Linked DNA regions of Homo sapiens: region 1 is linked to region 2. Evidence: fine-mapped expression QTL. A gene starts in region 2. The other region holds a variant in brackets. All regions are shown on one strand. Distances are between the middles of the regions. Region 1 overlaps CFAP58 (cilia and flagella associated protein 58). Region 2 holds the start of CFAP58-DT (CFAP58 divergent transcript).

Region 1 (8,342 bases), 33 kb after region 2:
AAGTTCCTCCTTCATTCTTTTCTTTCCTGGTGACTTGTGAAGAAGATGCCTGCTTCCCCATCCACCATGATTGTAAGTTTCCTGAGGCTTCCCCAGCCAGCGGAACTGGGAGTCAATTAAACCTCTTTTCTTTATGAATTACCCAGTCACAGGGAAGTTTTTTGTAGCAGTATGAAAATGGACTAATGCACATGTCAGTGGCACATGGGAATAAGGAGATGAAGCTGTTTGGGGCTGGAGGAACCAATCCAGGGATGCCAGCTGCCCAGGTCCCACCTGGCCATCCTGTGGGTATAGTAAAATCAGTATTTTAGCACACATCTGAAACCCATGAAAGGCACAGCAGTTGGGATACTCTGCATTAATGGGATAGAGTCCAACCTCTTTGTTCTCTGTGGAAAGTTCTGTCCTTTCTCTGCATGGCACATTCCTATTCACCCTTCGAGACCTAACTCAAATGCTCAGGTCAAGCTCCCTCTGGTTCCTTATGGGCAGAGCTTGTCACTTCGTACTTTTATGGATTTGTTAATGTCTCTGGAATGATGATTATCAATCTATAGTGTAATTATTTATTTGCATATTTGTTTTATCCACTTTATAGTGAGCTTTTGGGGGCAAGGACTTTATTTCATTCATTTCTTTATTTCTAGCATCCTGGCACATGAGAGACACCAAAAAAGTATTTGTTAAACAAATGGATAGATGATAAGTGGTAAAAAGAATGCTGCCACTGATTTTAATATACAATTGTATATATTTCTTGGCTTCCTTGTAAAAGAGAGATTCGGATACCAAGTTTTTTTGTTAACTGTTTTTCACAAGTTCTGATATTTAACCACACATAATGTCTTACCTAAATAATTTAAACACAAGTTCTTAAAATATTACTTATCACCTACAATTTTTCTGTGTCTTGCTTAACCCCTGACAGCATGTATCAGTTGCTACGCAACTTGTGCATCTCTGGACTTCTTAAGGATATGTATGTCTCTTTGTCCTCTTCTCATATTTCTTTCTTTCTTTACTGTCCAACACACACACACACACACACACACACACACTCATTCTCACAAACGAAAAGCTCCCTTATGTGCATTCTATTTGTAGAGTATTGAGAAATAATATCAAAGGCTGGGGAAGATGTCATGAAACTGACATTTTCTTCTACTTCTAAAGTGAGTATACATTGTTCCAAGTTTATCTTTTTGACCCAGAATTTTCCTTTTTAAGAAAAAACTGAATCTAATGAAAAATAAGAAATGGAGAGATTTATATGAAAGAATATTTTTTCAAAACATAATTTATAATAATGAGAACTAGGAATCAGCCCCCCGAAAGGTTAAATAAATTGTGTTACATTTATTTGACATAGTATTATGTAGCTGTTAAAATCATGTGTTTGCAAATTATTTTTAAAGATGGGAACATGTTTCTAATATGAATCTGAGAAAGACAATGCAAAATTATTTGTAGAGTTTGTCTCCAGTTTTGTCTGTATGCATACAAAAAGGACTGGAGACATACCTAATTTGGCTCCTCCAATATCACTAAAGAATATTAGAAATTGGGAGGTGGACTGGGACTTGGCATGTCACTGTGTTTCCAGCTGTAGATTTGAAAGTGGATCTGCCACCACCCTAGGGTACTAAGAATTGGGCAAAGGTAAACCCCTTCACCTTAGTAGCATTGTTCTTAGGTTGTGGTAAATCCTGTCTTGCTCAAGAACGAATAAAGAAAAAAGCAGCCTAATGGAGCCTATGGGAAAACATGCCTGAGAACCAAAGAAAGAGAATGGCTTCTAGAAGCCCCACGGTAAAGGTCTGGCTCTGAAAATGCTTCTATGGCAAGAACTTTAGGTTGAACTCTTTGAAATAGCCTTTTTGTGGTAAGTAAGAAACAACTGACTATCAGCGATTTCATAAGGTTCTTAACCTAATAGAAGAAAATGCAGAGAAAAGGTTTGGCTTCCTTCAAAGATTGTAAGTACATAAAACCTGGTGCCAAGTTTCCCCTTGTGGGAGGAACAGTGTTTAGCAAAATACCTTGATATTTGCCTTGGTTTGAAAGGTGAGGCTCCATGAACCAGAGTGAAACAGTCATGTGAGAAAAGTAACAGGAAGTGGGAAAGGAGGAGTGGGTGGTGAGCAGGAAATAGGGAGTAGATAGGGAAGAATGGGAGAGGAGGGCACACAATGTCAGCATCAAGGCAGTAGGCTGGGTGCTGCTGGAAGTGAGGAGTTCCCTAAGACAGGAATGATGGAGGAATTGCAGAAAACAGTGATGTCCAATATTGGATTTTAAGTTCCTCAAACCTCCGGTGGCAAATCTGCTACATCAACCCTGCGTTGTGATTGCACTTTGGTGGCACAGGCATGGGGTGGTGAGGATGTGAGGTGACACATCCCAGAAAAAGGACAGTATGTGCAAGAGACAAGATGCACCTGAGAATCTAGAATGCTATGGCAACAGCAAACCAGAGCCACAGCAAGTAGAAGAAATGCAATTCTTCCAAGAATTCTTGGAGATATTAGAGGGTTTGGGGGCTTCCCAGCACATAGAATGGAAAGTCTAGACTTATTGTTGTTGTAAAGGACAAGGTGACCCCAGTAGAATACAGGACTATCACCTGAGTTATAAATCCAACATGGCGTTACTGCTAGGAGAAAGCAAAGATGAAATAAAAAGGAAGAGTTGGACAAAATAAGAATCAATTGTATAAAAACTAAAAAAGAAAAAAGAAAAAAAAGGCAGATTTAAAATCCACACCAAAGTTAGTAAAGAACAGAATTGATTGTTGTGGAAAATGGAATCAGGCCAGGTGTGGTGGCTCATACCTGTAATCTTAGCACTTTGGGAGGCTGAGGCAGGAGGATCCCTTGAGGCCAGGAGTTCAAGACCAGACTGGGCAACATAGGAGACCTGGTCTCTACAAAAATGATCATAGAGAAGATAAGAGAGAAGAGGGCAGAGAATAGAAACCAGCCTACAGAGAGTTGGTTTCTGATTATGGAAATGAGCCCCTGGTCAAGGATGTAGTGGGAAAATATTTTCTGGAGATGAAGAAAGACCTGTACAGGCTGACCATGTTCCAGGCAAAATCAGTGACAGGAGACTCTCCGTAGACTTGCCCTAGAGGAAAGCCCTTTTGTGTGTGTGTTTCATCTACAATAATGAAGAAAAATTCTCTGAGAATTTAGGCAAGAAGAAAAAGCAGATAGATGCCTAGTTACCCTTTTTTGTTTTAATAGGAAAATGAGTGGAAGGAACCATATTAACATATTAATAGTGGTTATCTTTGGGTGATAAGGATACAAATTGTTTAAATTTGTTCCTTTTTTGCTTTTTTTTTTTTTTAGCTATTCTAAAATGGATGGGCTGGGCATGGTGGCTCATGCCTGTAATCCCAGCACTTTGGGAGGCCAAGGTGGGTGGATCACCTGAGGTCAGGAGTTCAAGTCCAGCCTGGCCAACATGGTGAAACACCATTTCTACTAAAAATACAAAAATTAGCTGGGAGTGGTGGTGGGCACCTGTAATCCCAGCTACTTGGGAGGCTGAGGCAGGCAAATCGCTTGAACCTGGGAGGTGAGGTTGCAGTGAGCTGAGATTGTGCCATTGCACTCCAGCCTGGGTGACAAGAGTGAACCACCATCTCAAAAAAAAAAAAATAAATAAATAAATAAAAATAAGAAAAAGTAAAATGGTTGTGTATTACTTTAGTATCCTGATTTAAAAAATAAATAAACACTATTAATAACCTTGCCTTTCTTTCAGGGACCAAATAAAATTCCACCTTTCCCAAGAAGCTTTATTAAAAGTGATCTCTAATTCCTCTGTACTTGGCTCCCCTCTGGCAGTTGAGGAGGCCCGTGTGCACGTAACTGTTACTTGTGTATGTCTGCCTCATTCTACACACTGGCTTCTTGGGGGCGAGTCTTATTCAATTTTGAGTTCTTCATATTGCTTATTTACTAAGTAAATACTCAAATATTTTTTGAACTAAGAATGAATGGAAAGCATAATTGGACATCTGAGTTAACTAGTCAGAGGCTCACTTTTAAGTATCTGTATCAAGTTATTTTCTAACAATATATTTACTTGTGACTATGGGTCTGCCCTTCCTTTAAATTCATGTGAAACATGTTACCATGATGGATGATTTTATCTGAATTATCATTGGCATTTTTAGCTGTGAGTGACTTCCAGACCTGGTCTCTTCTTCCTTCTGAGCTGCAAAACAGCATCAACATTTGCCTTCGTGTTCTTTCTTGCTTAGAGAAAGAAAAGTGAACTTGAAGATGCTAAACTTCTACATTATATTGTATTCATTTAGCTTGGCATTTGCCAGTGAGGAAGAAGATCCCCTTTTGTGCCTGAACTGGATGGCTCAGAATCCCAAACCTTTTCCTATGTGTTTGTCTCCATCAACACTTGCAATAATAATAGTGCATGATAAATAGCCACAACATCTCCGTGGGATACAAAAACAAGCACTTATTTCTTATTCACACACCTGCAGTTGACAGAGGTTCAGCTGACCTAAACTGGGCTTGCCTGGACTTGGCTCTGGGATGTGGATTGGGCTCAGTTCTGGACCACATGTTTCTTATCCTCCACGTGCATGTTCTTCTCATGGGGGAAGGAAGGAGAACAAGAGACAAAGCCACGCATACAGGCACATGTCATGTCTCTCTACTTGTCTGATATTCTGACCTCCCATTGGCTATAGCGAGTCACATGGCCAAGGCTAACATCAACAGCAAGGGAAATGCACTTCTCTCTTTAGGTTGTGGGACAAGGGGAGAGAGTGAACATTTGTTAAACCGTAAGATAATCTACCCCAGGATTACAGCAGTTTTTATCCTCATGATTTTCCTTTGCTGCACTCTAAATTTCACTATTCAGATAAATTGAGAGGCATGAGAAATGGCATGGTAAGTTGTG[A/G]TCTACCATATTTCCTGCTTTCTGAACTTTTACATGTTCTAGATAAAACCACTCCTAGTAAATTATTAAATCTGCTGAACATTTTTCACATGATGCACTTGCCTCATTTTAGGATCTCCCTCTTTTTTCATTTCAAATATTAAACTTCTGGCAGTCACCTCGCAGACATTTTATATGCCAGAAAACATTCTTTTGCAACAAATCCCTAACAACAAATTTCCTAGCTCTTTGCTCATTTGCCTATAACACTGTCAAGCAAAGCTCTTCAGGACAGAGATTCCAGGAAATGAATAATAATGTGCTTTCAAGGACTTAATGCAAGCAAAGAAACCAAAAATTGATTAAAGAAATATTGTCCACTAGATAGATATCTTCATAATGAAATAAAGCTCCTGTTTCATTGATGTTAATTTGAATTTTATACAGAGCCTCTGTAATTGGGTAGAATCCTGGAGAGAGGAATCAAGGGAACACAAATTATAAGCTTTTTCTATCATAATAAAAGAAGCATGCTTCATATCATTACTTTTCCTGCAGAACAGGATTTGATTCGGAGGAAAATCAAATTAACTTTTTAAAGTACTAGTATTATGTAACGTGACGTAGTGTAAACTATCATAATAATTTGTTAGCATTTATTAAATGATTAAATTACTATATGCTAAGTACTTATATGCTGGCGTAGACATATATTCTCTCACTTAAATCCTCATAATAGCCCTGTGAGATAGATATTATTATATCCCCCATTCATAATATAATATGTTATGCAATTGAATCAAAGCCATAGATATGCCTCTCTAAATTCAAGATAGAGGGTAAAATAACAAGGCAAGAAAAATAGGGAAGACTCAGCATTTCGCAAGCCAGGGCGCATAGTTGTTTTCTATTATTGCAGAGTGAGTTTTTCAGTTTCATTATGAAGGTAAAAGCATTGTCAGCATTCAAACCATTGACATCAAGTCAGAAAAACTTATTGGAGAAGTTTATTGTACTGATATTTCATCAAATGTACATTAAGGGGTTCCAAATGCAATGACCTACTTTCTAATCCCACCTTGGTCTATGTGATGTTTTGGCTATGCTGCAGTTTTCCTGTATGCGTTATTGATTTCTATCTCACTCTTATTTCTATTGGCAGGTTGTTTTAACGGCAACAGAAAAGGTAGGAGTAGGTTATAAACTGAGGCTGTACTTCTGTCGTGCACTGTAAGCATTTTCTGGACTCCCCTGAAGCCTAGGAGTGCCAGGAGCACCAATTCTCTGGCTGTAATAAAACTTTCTATATTTGGATGTGATTTATCTCATGAGTTGGTTTGAGGTATCTCAAAGTGTATATTAATTAAGCTCCAGCCCCACAGCTGGCAGCCTGTGTCTCTGACATACCACTTCTAATGGGGACAGCTTGCTGACAAGAGGTTTGGCTACTACTTAACACCCATATACTTTATGAATTTTCAGGATTTGAACTTCTGCATGACTTTGGCCTGAATGATTTCCATAAAAATAAACCGAGTCCCAACACTTAGAAATACATTGCTTGTAAATTGTCTTTTCTGCTCGTTTCAATATTTGTTAATTCCTTTTATCTTCTTGGTGTCCTGACGGGTTCTTATTACTCCAGCTTCAAGGATCCAGAAGCAAGTTTGTGACTTTTGTGCATGTTGTCTGCAGAAAGACAGACCATGCTAGTTGGATGCTCAAAAAAGAAATGCCCCTGGCTACCTCCTTTCTCTGTGGCATTATTCTGCCTGTGCAAAGAATTATTCCTGTTCTAACATCTCTGAAAGTGACTGAACAAACAATTTTTTTCCTTTCTCTAACGTGCTGCTTGATATTCTGAATGCTGATGATGCTGTTCAAAGTATTTTCAATCTATTAAGCATTAACCTTTCAGTCTTAGATTCTCCCATAACACTTGGTGCATATCTCAGTTTACTGGTTATATCCATTCCTTGATTATCCATTCTATGGTGAAGTCACACCCTACAAGTGAACTTGAGGGTAGAGAATGTGTCTTATTCTTCTTTCTATCATGCGTGCTTTTACAGTGCCTGCCATAGATGGGTCCTCAGTACCTGTTCATGGAGTGAATGAATAAATGGGGGAGTGAATGAATAAGTGAACAATACTGTACTCTGTTCACTTTATGAAACTAACAGAAACCTTGAGATTAAAAAAGAACTAAAAAGAAAGATATAGGCCTAGCTCACTTGGGAAAATGCATGCAGAATCCTAAATGAAATTCCAGCAAACCAAATTCAACAGTACATTAAAAGAATCATCCAGTATGAACAAGGAGGGTTTATCCTGAAGCTGCAAGGATAGTTTTCTATTAAGAAAGCTATTGCTGGTGGTGTGGAAATGTAAAGTGTTACAGCCATTTTGGAAAGCAATCTAGCAATATCTATTAAAGTTGAAAATATATATGTCTTTTGAGCCAGCTATTCTACTCCTGGGAATCCATCCCACAGAAATAAATGCACAAGTGCATGAGAATACACATACAAAAATGTTTCCTGTAGCATGGTTCAGAGTGGCAAAAAAGTGGAAACAAAGTTAATGCCCATCAGTGGAGAAGAATTAAATTATGATGGCACACCCACTCTATAGGATATTATGCAACCTTTAAAGAGAATGAATTAGAGTGATGATTTCTACAAGGTATTATTTGATGATAAAAAGGAAAGTGCATTAAGAGTAATTATAAGATCCCATTTGGCTAAAAAGTAAAAACAAACCCCAAAAAGCCAAACAGAAAACAAACAAATCTGTGTAGTTGTCTATTTACTCATTGAATAACTTTGTAAATATTACTTATTTTGATCTGTTTCCTTCTTTGTAAAATTGGGGGCAATAATAGTACATATCTTAGAGGATTTTTGAGAGATTAAAGGAGCTAATACATATAAAATGTCAGGTACATAGAAGGTAACTGATGAATATTAGCTATTATTATTAGGTTGTAGACCTGAATAGAATATGCAGAATCCAATGAAAAATATGGAAGAATACATAGTAGATTGTTAACCTAGTTTTGTTTTGTGTAGAAGAGGGGCTGATGTTGAAGGGAGAAAGTTCAAGTAAATAAGGAAAATAAATGTATATTTCACATTTATGAATTTATTTTAAATTGTGGCACATGGAACTATATATAAAGAAATTAAAATATTTTTAAAAGGAAAAATCTGTTACTAGGTTTATCAAATCAATTGACCCAATAAGAAAGAATAGTACAAAATTATATACATTGAAAGACATTTACTAAAATTCAATCCCATCCCTCCTTAAGCACCTGTAAAAAAATTTTGAAAGGTGCTTATTTAAATATATAAAGGATAAATATTTAAAATCATAGCCATCATTAACTCTGATAGGGAAAGAATAGAACCAGACTT
Region 2 (8,342 bases):
CTGTCATTCCTCTCTGTGCACACATCACATACCTCGTGTCTCTTTGTGTGACCAATTTTCCTCTTCTTGTAAGGATACCAGTCTGATCGGCCTTATTTTAACTTAATCACCTCTTTAAAGGCTCTATCTCCAAATACCATCACATTCTGAAGTAGGGGGCATCTGGACATTAACTTATGAATTTTGGAGGGACACAATTCAGCCCCTAACACCAGTGGAGACAGGGGTGAAGAAGACGTGCATCATCTTAGAGCTCCTGTAGTTTGACGGTGTGGTAGGGAACACAGGTATTAAGCAACTATTTACATGACTAGGCCATTAGTTACCACTGTGGGATGATGCAAGAAGTAGAATACACAATGCTGGAAAAGGTAGTCTGGGGAAGTGAGACTGAAAGTAATGTGAAGAAGTGAGATCTGAAAGAAGATTGGATGGGAGCCAGCCAGCTGAAGAGAGAAAGAGAGAGAGTCAAGTATTCCAGACAGGAAGATCAGCATTTGTGAATTCCAGGCAGTGGGAAAGAGCATGGCTACCCAGGGAATTGAAAGAACCAGTGTAACAAGGAGTGAGTGATGGGAGCTGGCACCAGAAAGTCGAAAGGGCCAGATTACACAGGACCTTATTTACTGACATCCTCATTTCAGTGCTTACTATATCCTGTCTCGGACTGTTGTCAGAAAATCTTTTAAGGGGAGTGTTGGCGTGCACAATTTGCTTCTCCTGATGCTCCTCAAGGGAGAAGATCGTGTCTTCAACTCCTTTTGTATTCTCTCTCCACAGTATGCAACATAGGGCTGGACATATAGTAGGTGCTCAAGAAATAAATTAAGTGGATATAATGAGAAATGAGATGAATAGAAGCACTCATTTGTCTAAATTAGGGGCTGACGCGATCTTGTTGGGTGTGTTTCTCCTAGAGGCTCTGAAAGGTGAGGACTTTGATACTATAATGCCACCTAGTGATTCTTGTTATTACAACAACACAGGGGAGCAGGGTGGTGACTAGTCTTCTGTAATCCAGAAAATTGGAAATCAAACATTTTGTTTCATCAGCATAAATTGATATGTCCGACCACCCATCCTTTCATCCATTCATCCATCTGTGTTGATGCCCCCTGCATCTCTTTCCTATGAGCTGAACATGTCACGCGCCTTTCTACCTCCTTGTGGTTCTTTGATTGCTCAGTCATATTTGGGTCTTTTTGTCCTCCTATAAGTAAGGTCTCAGATACCAGTATCTAGATTCTCTGAGCTCCCATTGTGCTTTCTGTTAAAATGGCATATACTAAATGATACCATCTTATTGCATTAGAATTAACTGTAGATGTTCCCTTCTGTCTTTCCCCTAATACAGATTGTGAATGCAAAGGGCAGTGACTCTGCCATAGTCACCTTGGTGCTTCCTGTGGGCAGCCTTGTGCCTACCATGCAGTACGTTCCTTAAAAAATTGTTTACTGGATTGAACTGCTGTCACCTATGCAGGGCACCTACTTATGAAAGCTCTTTTAGGAGATCCCTTGGACATGGGAAGACACACAGCCCTGCACTTGACATCAGTGCAACGTATGGGTGACCAGGGCCCTCTAGGTCTTTATTTTTGTTATATACTTTCAGAAATGTTATGGAGTTTCTCTGGATCATGGCAATCCTACAAACCGATGGTCCCAATGTGTAATCAGGTTTCCTGTGAACACACAAAGCAGCCTGAGCTGGGTTGCCTGTCCCATTTCAAGCTCATTTCTATTAGCTTGGCTTACAGTGTGGTTCAGCCTGCCTCTCCAGTTCATCTGCCACCTCTCCAGCAACCTCCATGCACATTATGACTCAGCCACATTTCCCTCTTTTTGTCCACCAGATATACAGTGTCAGGTCATGAATGAGATGTCACTGCACAGTTGCCAGTTTTCCTTGCATTTATTCATCAACCCAACACAGTTCTCATAAACTTGACAAACTTACTCTAAACATTATAAGGGAGGATAAAGGCCCGTGGATAGACAAAGCAATCTTAACACAGAAGAATTTGGAATGGGGAACTTGCCCTTCAAGCATGATGACTAACTAAAAACCCACAGTGACAAAACCTTGTGGTACTGACACATGAACAAACCAGAGAGCTCAGAACATACTCATGTCTATTTGGAAACTTCCCCAAACCAATTTGGAAAGAATGGATTGTTTGACATGGGTTGTTGGAAAATTTGCTCACCCCATGGAGAAAAATATAGTTAGATCCCTATCTCACACCATATGGGAAGGAGAACTCCAGATGGATTAGATAACTGAATGTAAAAAAGTAAAACTATGAAGCTAATGGATAGAAAAAAATGATGGGAGAATACCTTTATGACCGTGGGGTTAAGGAGGTCTAAATAATACCAAAAAACTATATAAAAAATATAGGGAAAAAAAGAGCTAAAGAGCCACAGTATCAAAGTTAAGGACTATTGTTCCCTTAAAGACATAAAGGCAGAGTTTCTAGTCTTCTAAAGCAGATTGATGTCCAGGCTTCTCAAAGATATCTGTAAATCAAAAGAAAAAGAAAAAAGATCAATAGAAAAATAGACACAGACACTGAAAAGGCAGTTCACAGAAGGGAATCTCAAGTAGCCTATGAATGTATAAAGAAATGGTCAAAAAATTCACTAGTAGTTAGAGAAGTGAAAATGAAAGCAAAAAATGAGCTTACACTACTTTCATCATATTGACAGAAATTAGAAAATTAGCTAATTAGATGAGTCAATATTTGCAAAGCACTTAGAATAGTATCTGGTATTTACTAAACACTTTATGAGTGTTTAATAAAAAAGACCTATCACCTTCTGGAAGGGATGGATGGAAGTGTTGGATGGAAACCCCACACTGGAGTGCAGCGTAGGGCAGTAACTCTGGTACACAATCTTAAAGTGCTTGGTAAGTACCCAGGGCTTGTACTAGGCTACTGGGCATCGTTGTGCTCTTGGAAAACTGTTCATCTGGCCAGATGAGTTTGAAAATATCACACCCTCTAGATAGTTACAGCCTTCTAGGTTCATGACTTGGCTGGCGTACAGAGATTTTGTGAGAATAAAAAGTGCACACCTTTCTCCAGTAGGGCACATGGCACGGGAAAGAGAGTAGAGACAGTTTTTCAGCCTCCATTGCCCCATGGCTGGATGTGTTTGTGCAGGACGCAGCTGCATAAGCAAATGTCCCTGTGCATCCCTATAACTTTAACAATCTTACTCCTTGGCATATATTTCAGAGGAATTTGCACAGAGGTCCTTAAGGGACCACGGACAAAGACGATCATGGCTGTATTACTTGATGTATTGGAGAATTAGAGGCGGCCTTGTTACCTAACACCTGGGGAATGGAAGTGAAGTGTGGTAGATGCCCCTTATGAAACGCTGTGCAGTACTCAGAAGCAATGAACTATATGCTTGCCAATCGCAACGAGGACAGATCCTTAAAAAGAATGTTGAGTGAAAAAAGTAGAAAATAAGATAATCTCCAAAGTCCAGTAGCATTATTTAAACATTTTTAAAAAATACACTGATAAAAATTTTGTACATTTCCCAAAAATACATATGGAAGCACAGCAGCATGAATGCCTATGGGGTTGAGGATAGGGGTTGGGAGTAGGGATGGGGATAAAGGGGGAAAATAAAACCAGAGAGGAGTCTTACACATTTCATGAACCAAGGAGTATAATTATTTCAACTATTTGTACCTGAAGTCCAGAAAGAGTGGAGGCAGAAGGGGGAGAAGAGGGCGAAGAAACGTTTTTGGGAGAGGGGTCCCAGAAGAGAGATTTTCGCGATGTGGCGCTACATACGTTTTTCCAGGATGCCTTAAGCTCTGCACCCTATTTTTCTCATCACTAATATTAGATTAAACCCTTTGAAGACAGCGTCTGTGGTTTCTCTACTTCAGCTTTCCCTCCGTGTCTTGCACACAGTAGCTGTTTTACAAGGGTTGAACTGACTGAAGTGAGATTATTCCTCGTTGTCTCGGAAGGCAGAGTGTAGCCGCCAGTCCTTCCCTCATCCGGAACCTTCTGGTCCACATTTCCTTCCAAGCGTTAGTCCTCGGCTCTCCATGCTTGGCTCCCTAGTGTCACACACCGTCCTTTCTGGGTGGCCTCTTCCAATTCGCCCTCTTCTTTCTCCTGGGTGTCTCCATCTGCCCACACCGTGGGACTCCTCCCAGCCTCTCAGGGGCACCGCCCCCTCACTTCCTTGGCTCCGCCCCATTGGGATATATTTGCATATTTCTCTGAGGAACCCTGCCCAGGTGCCAGCCGCAGAAGCTCCTCCCCTTTCGAATTCCCGCTAGCGCCCCTAGAGGGCGTGTCCGTTGCCAGGCGACGGGCCGACGCGCCGAGCGCGGGTTTCCGCTCGGGGCGGGCGATAGAGACAGCGCGTCGCGCCTTTAGCTTCTTTCCCAGACTCCGGCCCAGCTCCTGCGATCTCCACAGCAGCCTCTGAGGCCGCCCCCAGAGAGCATCAGGATGGCTGAGGTCAGGAGTCAGCGCCCCTCTGTCGCCTTTCCCTTGACCCCTCCCCATTGTCCCTCTCCTACTGACGATTGTCACAAACGGTGATTCCAATATTTCCCCCCATCAACATCTTATTCCCCTGCACCCTCACTCACTCCCGCGCCTTTCTCCGTTGGCTCTGGCCTCTTTACCTCCTGTTTCTCCTTCATTTGTGTGGACACCCCACTATCCCCACTGTGGCATCGGCGCTATGCTAAGTGCGGTAGAAAATTAATGAATTCTGAAATCCACACGTGACATGCACCCAGCCCTAGATTTTTAGTCATGGAGTGATACCATAAGAGAGGCTCACACAGAAATATTGGAGATGTCTTATCTCACAGGGGAAACCGGGAAGAAAGCTTCACAGATGCCTGCTGTCATCCCAATCAATGGCCCTTGTCCACCTGTCACACCCTGATTTCCTAACATGTGATCACCTGCTGTCACACAGCTTCATTAAGGCTCTTCTGCCCATCACCTCTGCCCCGTGTGTTCATTGACTCCTGTGTTAACATCTCGTATCACCCCACCACTCCCCCATATTACAGTACACCCCATTTTCAGCCTCTCCAATGAGGGGTTATTTCTGCAACCCTTCAGTGACTCCCTGCCTGCCCCTTAGCCCCCTCACGTATAACCTCAAGAGCCTCGGGTCCCTGTCATTACTTGCCATTCACAGTCCCCATCCACTATGGCCCTACCCAAATCCTTCATGGCCCCATCAGAGCCCTTCCCCCATCACCCATCCCACGGTCTGTTCCAGCCAGGACCAGCTACATGATTTGCAAGGCCTGATGCAAAGTGAAAACACAAAGTCTCTTCAAAAATTACAAATAATTTTAAGACAGAACAGCAGAGCATTCAACCAAGAATGGGGCCTTTCTGAGCAAGGGGCCCTGTGCAACTGACCAGTTTTCACTCCCATGAAGCCAGCCCAAGCCCCATCATCTTTCAGCACCATCGTGCTCCACCCCCTCCCCACCCCATTCTAGTTACTCTCTTGCTTCCTCTGCACCATTCACATCCCCTCATCATTGCTTTTCCTCCATCTCCAGTCTAGCTTTATAAATTCCGTCTTCCCGTGGTCAACACCTCCTTCCTTTCCTTATCATACGATCTCTTTCATATCATCCATCTTCCTCACGCCTGGGCTCCATCACTCACATCTCTCTCTGACATCCATGCTGCTGTGGCCACTTCACTTCTCCCCATTACCCATAGTCATTTGTATCTCTTTCTTCCCATTTCCTTTCTTGTTCCTTCTAGTTCTTTATTGTCCCATTATTGCTTTTGAGTGTTTTCTCCTCTTTTCTCCCACCAGTCATCTTTGTTTATTTCATTCTTCATTCCCCATAGGGAAGCCCCAGCCTCCCAGAGGCACCAGCCCCTCATTTCCTTGGCTCTGCCCTATTCAGGATATATTTGCATATTTCTGTGAGGAACCCTGCCCAGGTGCCGGCCTCAGAAGCTGCTCCACTATTATGGATTAGTTATTTCCATTTCCCTCTTTCTGTTACTCCTCTCGTTTCTTCCTTTCTTCTACTTTTCTTCTTACTTGACCTCAGCCAACTTTCTCGATTCTGCTTTCACAATTCTCTATTTCCCCTCTGGCCTCATCTTATATTGCAGTTCTCTTTTCCTTTTCCCTTTTCCTTCTCCCCACTAATTGATATTCCCAGAACTTAGGACAGGACAGTGCCTGGCACATAGCAAACAATCAGTGAATAGGTGAAGAATAAAGAAATGCCACAGTTCCTTTCTGATCAGTTCACGTTGATTTCATCCTTCTGAAACAGATACCATTATATGTTATAACAGTGGAAATATCAACTGTTTATTGGCCAAAGCTAAGAGATTATTTTTCCTTTGCTTTTAATGACAATAGGAACAAATCTCTTTTGTTCCTAAAAGTTTCTTTAAAACTTTTCCTTCTTTGGTATTTTTCCATTCCTGTGCTAAGTGCCAGGTAAACAGGTAAAACTTGGACTGCTAACAAATCATTAGGCTGTTGATCAAGTGTTGACGTTAATACCATTTACAGGGATGGAACCAAGAACAGTGCAGTGACAAATTTTTGTGTGTGCTTATGTTTAGCATCAACAAGGGAGAAGAACAGAACAGCAGCAACACCGTATTTCCTTAATATGGTTTTTCCTCCTTTGTGGAATTACTACATTGTGGTCTTTGCAATAATCTGCTTTTAGTCAGGAAGAAAAACCTATGTGAATTTAAAATTAGTACTAAAGTTGTTATACAAAATGCTATAGATATGCTTGTGACTCTACATTTATTTTAATTTACAAAGACTGTTTTGCTTGCATGTCATCGTTAGAGATTTAATTAATAGTACAAGTGTTTTCGAAAACCAAGAATACGTAGACTTTTTCCATATTGGGCAAGACGGGCTTGTCAAAACAGAAGGTAAACTAGACTCCTTAAAATCTTCAGGGTGAATTGAAATTTTACTTTATTATTGGGACTACAGATTGTTTCAGTTGGTTTCTTTTAGCAAGAGAGTGTTGATGCCAAGGCCCTTTGTAGAGTAGAATATTAAAACATAATGTTGCAAACGTAAGTAAGGCCTTGCAAGCCTTATGAGTCCTTTGCTCAAAAGTCTTGAGTGGTTCCCTGTGGCCTGCAGAATAATGCAATCCGTACTCCTTTGAATGTAATTCAGTGTCTTCACTGTGTGTCCCTCACTCCCTAGCTTCCTTCTGGGCCTGCTCAAATGCCAATTTTTTTCTGAGATTTTTTTTTTTATTCTTGCTGCTGGGAATAATTCTCTTTCTGTGGGTTCATAGAGAACTTTGAATACATTTTATGATAGGGATCAAATTCTATGCTTTCATTAACTGCATTCATATCCCACCAGCAATTAAGTATAAATTCCCTGTGGATAAGCTGTTTATTACTCATCTTGTGGATAAGCTGTTTATTCCCAATCCATCATAGAATTTATGTATGGCAGATGTTCAATAAATACTTGCTCAATGAATGAATAAATATATTAACCATACCCATTCTTCTTCATTATTATGTTGTAGCTAACAAGAAGTAGGTGGATTTGTTTGCTAGAGCAGCCATAACAAAGCACCACAAACTGGGTGGCTTACTCCAGTCTGAGCTCATCTTAACTTATTAAATGACTCTGTTCCAAATAAGGTCAGATTAGCAGGGTTAGGACTTCAAAATACCTTTTTGGGGGACACAATTCAACCCCTAAAAGTAGAGAAATAAGAATCCCGATATAACTCACTCTTAGGTTCTCATCTAAGTAATAGCCAGACTTGCTTGAATTATATCTATATGTCTGGGCTTATATTTTGAAATAATTTGTTGCCCATCTAACCATGGAAAGCAAATGTGGAAAAGTCCCATGAGTATTGCACAGGGGCATTTTAGGACACTGTGGGGCATGACCTAGCCTACATTTCTAAGGAATAAAAATGATGGAATCTCTTTTGGGAGATAAGTGCATATTTCAGGTGAGTTTCACTGTATATGTGATTTCATGATATCTATGCCAAGATCTTCCTATGTCTGGCCTCAACACACCGTGGCCACCCCCCGCTGCCCTTTGCAGTCTTAGGGGCAATAAGAAGCAGGGCCCAGTGAAAAGAGACCAGGGTTTGGAATAATCATAATAGCTCTGAAAATTCCTTGAATCCCTACTATTTGCCAGGCATTTGGCTAAATGTTTAACATCAGTGATCTAATTTAATCTAATCCTTAGTAACATCATGTAGTGGGAACTACTTTTATCCTAATGCATATATATTCTGCATATATATCCCAATGCATATATATATATGTAATGTG

Evidence for each region. PIP is the estimated chance that this variant, and not a neighbour inherited with it, causes the effect.
Region 1: its variant is fine-mapped to the expression of CFAP58-DT in blood mononuclear cells (TOPMed, PIP above 0.99).

The regions. Positions count from the first base shown.
Region 1 is chr10:104,382,723-104,391,064 of GRCh38, forward strand. All of the region lies in intron 9 of CFAP58 (cilia and flagella associated protein 58), which reads left to right. Among named protein-coding and RNA genes, the nearest start is that of CFAP58, 33 kb to the left of the region's middle. The variant A/G (reference allele first, on the strand shown) is at 4,945.
Region 2 is chr10:104,349,405-104,357,746 of GRCh38, forward strand. It overlaps CFAP58-DT (CFAP58 divergent transcript), which reads right to left and starts at 4,171. Exons shown (of 2, transcript NR_108036.1): 1 at 3,714-4,171; 2 at 1,897-2,523. CFAP58 (cilia and flagella associated protein 58) reads left to right here and starts at 4,429. Exons shown (of 18, transcript NM_001008723.2): 1 at 4,429-4,502. The coding sequence starts at 4,494. RefSeq lists enhancers at 79-1,003, 474-593, 1,824-1,883, 2,642-2,691, 2,712-2,821 and 1 more.